Linked DNA regions of Homo sapiens. The protein of the gene in region 2 interacts with the protein of the main gene of each other region in a pairwise test. Each region holds a gene or a part of one and is shown on either strand. Other genes may lie near its edges. The genes, in order: BTK and TLR8.

What was found.
Region 1: the proteins of TLR8 (region 2) and BTK interact in a two-hybrid assay, tested with the Homo sapiens proteins (one study listed by BioGRID).

The regions. Positions count from the first base shown.
Region 1 is NC_000023.11:101,351,837-101,355,284, reverse strand, and holds part of BTK (tyrosine-protein kinase BTK), read left to right. Parts: intron 1-590; coding exon 591-655; intron 656-1,296; coding exon 1,297-1,415; intron 1,416-1,933; coding exon 1,934-2,091; intron 2,092-3,448. UniProt on the Homo sapiens protein: Non-receptor tyrosine kinase indispensable for B lymphocyte development, differentiation and signaling. Binding of antigen to the B-cell antigen receptor (BCR) triggers signaling that ultimately leads to B-cell activation.
Region 2 is NC_000023.11:12,920,020-12,923,846, reverse strand, and holds the end of TLR8 (toll-like receptor 8 isoform 2 precursor), read right to left. Parts: coding exon 1,681-3,827; 3' UTR 678-1,680; downstream 1-677.

The DNA.
Region 1 (3,448 bases), about 88 Mb from region 2:
TTTGTTTTGAGATGGAGTCTCGCTCTGTTGCCCAGGCTAGAGTGCAATGGCACCATCTCGGCTCACTGCAAACTCCGCCTCCCAGATTCAAGCAATTCTCCTGCCTCAGCCTCCCAAGTAGCTGGGATCACAGGCGCCCAACACCACGCCCAGCTAATTTTTGTATTTTTAGTAGATGGGGTATCGCCATGTTGGCCAGGCTGGTCTTGAACTCTTGACCTCAGGTGATCCACCCACCTCGGCCTCCCAAAGTGTTGGGATTACAGGCGTGAGCCACTGCACCCAGCCTCTCCCTTAATTCTTTCAGCATATCAGTGAGGGAATGGGGTGGTGTGGAATTGCCCATGAGAATGCAATCGTTCTGTATGTCCTCAGTGCTTTACCTAGGACTACACAGCAGGTTGCTTTCCACGTGGTGGAAATGAATCAAAATTTCTTGGTGGCATCAACAGATTCCTATTAGGTGGGAAGGTGTCTGTAGTCGAAGGAGATGAAGCTTCCCTGGCTTCATTCTACTGGTCAGCAGAAGCTTTGTGCCTTTAACCTCTGTGCTGGGGACGGAGTCTCACTGGTCTCTGTTTGCACTACAGGCAGCTCGAAACTGTTTGGTAAACGATCAAGGAGTTGTTAAAGTATCTGATTTCGGCCTGTCCAGGTGAGTGTGGCTTTTTCATCTTTCCCTCCAGAAGTAAAAATAGCACAGTATGAAACATGGGTAGGTGTTACAGTTTTAATCCTCTCCTTTTCTTTTTTTTCTCATTCTAGCGTTTTCTGCCGATCTTTCTATTCTTTTTCTTCCTCTGAGTTATTTAAGCCACCTCTTTCATCCTTTTGTTTTATTGTCATATCCCTTTCCTTCCTTTCTCCCTTTATCTCTACCTCCTCTTTTTTAAATCTATTTCCCCAATACCTTATCTTGATCTATTAATCCTGATGACTTTACTCCATTCCTCCTTCTTTCTTAATCAGTCTAATTCCCAGTGACAACTGCAGATAAAAGGAAGGGAAGGAGAAGAGCAGAGAAAGGAAAGGTGGATAGAGAAGAGGAAGGGAGTACCTACTAGATCTTATTTCACTTCATCCTTCTTGTAACCATATTGTCAATCAGGAAAGCTCAATCAGATACAAAAACAGGAAATTCGTTAAAAGTAACGTTTGTAGAAGATACTAGTTGAGGAGGAGAGACTTTTGAGAAAGCCTGTGTGTGTTTGTGACACTCTTGTGACCGTGCCAAGAAAACGTAAGCAAATATCAAGCCTCCAAATCCTAATGCAACAAGTCCTGAATCCCTTGCAGGTATGTCCTGGATGATGAATACACAAGCTCAGTAGGCTCCAAATTTCCAGTCCGGTGGTCCCCACCGGAAGTCCTGATGTATAGCAAGTTCAGCAGCAAATCTGACATTTGGGCTTTTGGTAAGTGGATAAGATTACACAGATTATACAGCTCAAAGGATAAGAAATGCAATGGGAAAATTCACACTTTGCAACCTCCACAGAGATATTGTTCTTGCTTTCATTCTTCCAATCCTTGGGGAGTGCTTACTGTGTGTCAGCCACCACAGGGGTTTCTGAGGATGAAAACTAAACTGGACATGATCTCTGCCTTTTTAGAACTTAAACCATGTTAAGGAAAACAATTCATTCAGTTTTCAACAGCTTCTGAATACTGATTATGTACCAGGCACTCTGCCAGACCCTATAACTGCAAAGACAAATAAGATGCTGTCTCTCTTCTAGAGGAGTTAATAGTCTAGTACGACCTTGATCTCCATCTAGTGTGGTCAGTACTATAGCAGAAATTTGGGCAAAATATAAAAAGCACAGAGCGGGGAACCAACTGATTCTAATCTTTGAGGTTGATCTAGGAAGACTAGGACCCCTGCTATCCAAAAAGACTGCAAACCAATTTAATAATTTTTTTCACCTTCTAGGGGTTTTGATGTGGGAAATTTACTCCCTGGGGAAGATGCCATATGAGAGATTTACTAACAGTGAGACTGCTGAACACATTGCCCAAGGCCTACGTCTCTACAGGCCTCATCTGGCTTCAGAGAAGGTATATACCATCATGTACAGTTGCTGGCATGAGGTAAGTGCTTTATTAGGATCTCTTAAATTATTTCCTTGAATCTACTTGCCCATTTAGCTGGCCATTCAGCCACCAAAGACTGATAGCTGCACACATTCTTTTTTTTCCTTTTTTTTTTTTTTTAATTTGAGACAAGGTCTCGCTCTTTCACCCAGGTTGGAGTACAGTGGCGCGATCTTGGCTTACTGCAACCTTCGCCTCCCAGATTCAAGCGATTCTCATGTCTCAGCCTCCCAAGTAGCTGGGATTATAGGCGTGCACCACCACACCAAGCTAATTTTTTTTTTTTTTTTTGGTGACACAGTCTTGCTCTGTCACCCAGGCTGGAGTGCAGTGGCACGATTTTGGCTCACTGCAACCTCTGCCTCCTGGGTTCAAGTGATTCTCCTGCCTTAGCCTCCCGAGTAGCTGGGACTACAGGCACATGCCACCGTGCCCAGCTAATTTTTGCATTTTTAGTAGAGACAGCATTTCACCATGTTGGCCAGGCAGGTCTTGAACTCCTGACCTCAGGTGATCCACCCACCTCGGCCTCCCAAAGTGCTGGGATTACAGGCGTGAGCCACTGAGCCTGGCCAATTTTGTATTTTTAGTAGAGATGGCATTTCGCCATGTTGACCAGGCTGATCTCGAACTCCTGGCCTCAAGTGATCCGCCCACCTCGGCCTCCCAAAGTGCTGGGATTAGAGGCATCAACCACCACGCCAGGCCTTGCACACATTCTCTGACCTTGGCCTGCAACTTGATCATCTGATGGCCAGAGGCTTTCCCAGGCCCACTCCGATTCTCACTAGAGTGTCATTAGTACACTCCAATGCCAGCTCAGCTTTAGGGAGTGAGGTGTTGTGGGGCCATGTCATCTAGCATAAGCAGGCAGCCAGAGGCATTCAGACAAGTGAATGGGCATTACAAAAGAAAAGTCATGAAAGTTTGTTCATTCCTTTGTGTGTCATTGGCCCTTTCTTCTACTTTATTAGCTGCCAACCGTTTCTGGCTGAGGTCCTAAATGAGATTTTTTTTTTTTTTTTTTTGAGACCGAGTCTTTCTCTGTCGCCCAGGCTGGAGTGCAGTGGCGTGATCTCGGCTCACCGCAAGCCCCGCCTCCTGGGTTCACAGCATTCTCCTGCCTCAGCCTCTCGAGTAGCTGGGACTACAGGGGCCCGCCACCACGCCCGGCTAATTTTTTGTATTTTTAGTAGAGACAGGGTTTCACCGTGTTAGCCAAGATGGTCTCGATCTCCTGACCTTGTGATCCACCCGCCTCTGCCTCCCAAAGTGCTGGGATTACAGGCATGAGCCACAGCGCCCGGCTAAATGAGATTTTTTTTAAAACCTACTGCTTGAAAGGGAACTAAAA
Region 2 (3,827 bases):
CTTGCTTTTAGATATTTGTCCCTATACCTCAACAAGCACAAGCATAAACATCTTTGTATAAACTCTTCATGGTCACAAAACAGCATGCAATGTGACAAAATTAAATTGTCCTTGGCAAACTTGCACTGCTTTCCACTTTGTGCGTATTAAATAACACTATGACACATTATTTTGGTCAGTTTCTTAGAAGCACATATTAAAAGGTAACTCATGCTGTAAGATTTAACTAAAAAGGAAAGATGGTATATTGGAGGTTTATCTTCTTTTCATTCTGAAGCAACTTCCTTTTCTTATGCTTGGATAATTTCTAGTTATTCTCAGGTAAATTTCATTAGATATCTCAAGATTCATACTGGATAGAGGATGCTATGGACTGATGCAGAGGAACCAAGGGGACAGTAGAAGTGGAAAGGGTTGCCAAAGTTGTTTCATTTGGGGGAATTGCACAAAGGCTACCAACAGCCAGGCATTCTGACTTTATGTCTTCTGAGTAGGGAATCAAGATAGAATTTATCTATTAATAAGTATCTTAAAGTAAAAGTGTCATGAAAACTGCTTCCCCTTTGATTTCTACCAAATAGTTTTTTAAAAAGAGTTCTGAAAAAATTCAGTGTATATGGCAATTTCTTTTATATTAAAGACCAATTTCTCTATGATATATTTATCATACACTCCTCTTGTAAAATGAAACATTTTTATTCATTCATTTTAAGATTTACAGCAATGGCAATTAACAATATAGACCAAAAGCTTCGAATTTAGCTGCATACTTTTAAAAAATGGTAAGAAGTAAAAGATGCTTTAAAAGCTATCCATCTCAGTTCTTAAATGGCATCTAAACCTTAGAAGTCAAATGTTACAGCAAATATTTGTAAAAGCAACTGTAAATAAAACCGAACGCAACCACAGCATAATATAACCATGTAGCCATAGATATATGATAAATATAAACAACAGCTTAATATTAGGACCATTAGTCACAGTGGCAAAAGTTCTTAGATATTGAAAAGAAGATGTGTTAGGTCAACTGCTAAGATGGTCCACAGTGATCCCTGCCTCCTGATATTCACAATCTATCATCAAGATAGCAGGCCATCCCAGGACAGCAGTCAAGGGAAAATAGTTGATGACCAACTGAAGCAATCAGAGCTCACCATCTTGGTCTTCAGCTGTTTTCCCTGGACTGAGGTGGTCACTCCCATGGAGCTGGTGGGACCTGTGGTTTACTTCTAACAAATAGAATATGGCCAAAGTGATGAGATATCACTTTTTTGATTCGATTACAAAAGATTGTGACTTCATCTTGCTAGCAACCTCTCTTTTTTGCTAGCTCTGATGAAGCAAGCTGCCTTGTGGGAGAGGCTCGCATGGCTTACATGAGTATAGCCTTTGGCCAATAGCCCAGGAGGAATTGAATCCAGAAAACAACCACATGAGTGTGACCCCAGTGATGCCTATGTCTCTGGTGAACACCTACATTGCAGCCTCTGAGACACCCTGAGCAGAGGACCCAGTTATGCTGGGCCTGGACTCCTGACCCTCAAAAACTGTGGGCCAGCAAATGTGTTGTTTTAAACCACTAAGTTTTGGGATAATTTGTTACATAGCAATAGATAACTAATACAGAAATGTCATTCCTTTGCATCTTTATTATGGCGCGAAATCATGACTTAACGTCAGTTAGTATTGCTTAATGGAATCGACATACATATTGTTATACCGTGAATCATTTTCAGTCAAGACCACATTTCTCAGAGTTTGCCAAAACAAGCCTTCTGCCTTCGGGTTGTCAGGCCACTGGAGGATGGAGCTCTTACAGATCCGCTGCCGTAGCCTCAAATACTGAGAATGCTGTAACACTGGCTCCAGCAGGATAAATATAATCACATCCATGTTCTCATCCATTAGCCTCTGCAAAGCCAAGTAAAAAGCTGTTTTAAAGTTCCAGCTTTTTGCATATTTTTTGGTTAAAACAAATACTGTTTTCTTGCTTTGGTTGATGCTCTGCATGAGGTTGTCGATGATGGCCAATCCCGGGTCCCAATCCCTCTCCTCTAGACAAAGGAGAACGTTTTTGTCTCGGCTCTCTTCAAGGTGGTAGCGCAGCTCATTTATCACCCAGTCAGTAACAGAGGCATCTTTGGTGTCATAAGAAATGTAAGCATCATAGAAAGTTTGGGATGTGGAAAGAGACCTGTAGCCTTTTACCTTAGCTAAACACACATTATATATAAACCAAACATCCCAGTAAAACAAATGGTGAGCCAGGGCAGCCAACATAACCATGGTGGTGATAAAGAACGTGAAGAAAAATAATATCACTGCAGTGACATCTGAAACACAAGTTGTTAGCTCCAGACTCACAATACTCTTCCCTCTTTGATCCCCAGGACTGGCACAAATGACATCTACCAGTCTGGGAATTTTGACATTCAGATGTTCATCCATCCATCTTCGGAAATCTCCAATGTCACAGGTGCATTCAAAGGGGTTTCCGTGTAGTTCCAACATAGATAATTTGGTGGTGGTCTTAGTTTCAAGTGCGGATTTGTTGATTGTTTTTAGCAGATTGGAACTTAAATCGAGGTGCTTCAGACTACTGACTTCAGAAAGAAAGCCAGAGGGTAGGTGGGAAATCCTGTTATGACTCAGCAGCAGTGTCCGAAGGGAAGATGTAAAGTCAGATAGGCTATCAGTTAAAAAGAGTAGTTTGTTTCCACGTAAGTCAAGCAACTCGAGACGAGGAAACTGCTGGAGTAATGTCCAGTTAAAAAACTTTAACATATTATCATTTATATGTAGTTCAGTGAGACTCGCTGGCAAATTAAGGAATGCTTCATTTGGGATGTGCTTCAGCCTATTAAGGGATAAATCCAGACGTGTCAGATTCTTGAGACCTTTGAAAATGGAGATATACCTGTTGTCATCATCATTCCACAAAATGTCAAGGCGATTGCCACTGAAAACTAATTCTACCAGGGACTTGCTTTCCAGGTTATACTTATCTGTTAAAGTATAAATGTTGTTGTGGCTCAAGTTTAAAACTTTTAGATTTGTGAAATTTTGAATAAATTCTAGATGATGTGTTACGCCTGCTATTCTGAAATAGTGTGAATTATAGCTGAGATCTAGAACTTCCAAGTCGGACAATTCAGTAAGAGCACTAGCATTATCAAAGTCTAGTCTATTGTTTGTCAAATCCAAATATTTGACATGAGGAATGGCTGAAAATTCAGTTCCACTTAACACTTGAGCATTGCTATTTGCAGACAGATTTAAACAGGCAATGTCAGGAAGATTTTCAAATTGGTTTGGCCCAATGAAGAAAATACTGTTGAGGCTTAAATCTAAGGCTTTTCCATAAGCAGCACATTGTGGCTTTATTAAAGGACGGGTGAAATGATAAAAGTTCGAATGTGGGTCAAACTCAAAATCTGTTGAGCGTCGTTTCCGGATATGACGTTGAAAAGAGGAACTATTTGCATAACTCTGCCGGGTATCTTTTACCAACGGTGATATTCTGTTTTCTGACAAGTAAATAATTTCCAGATTGGAGAAATTTTGGAAAAGTTTGAAATCGATTTGCTTAATAAAATTAATACCCAAGTTGATAGTCGATAAGTTTGGAAGCTGCATCAGGGGCTGGAAATCATCTTCTCTGAGTTCCTGGAACACATAACCTCTTAAATGCAATGCCCGTAGAGACAAAAGTTTAGAGAAGTTTCTGGAAATATTAATATGCTGTGGATAACTCCCCTTTATATAGTTAAAAGACAAGTCAAGTATTTCTAAGCGGGGCAGCATCGTTAAAAATGCCCCAGAGGCTA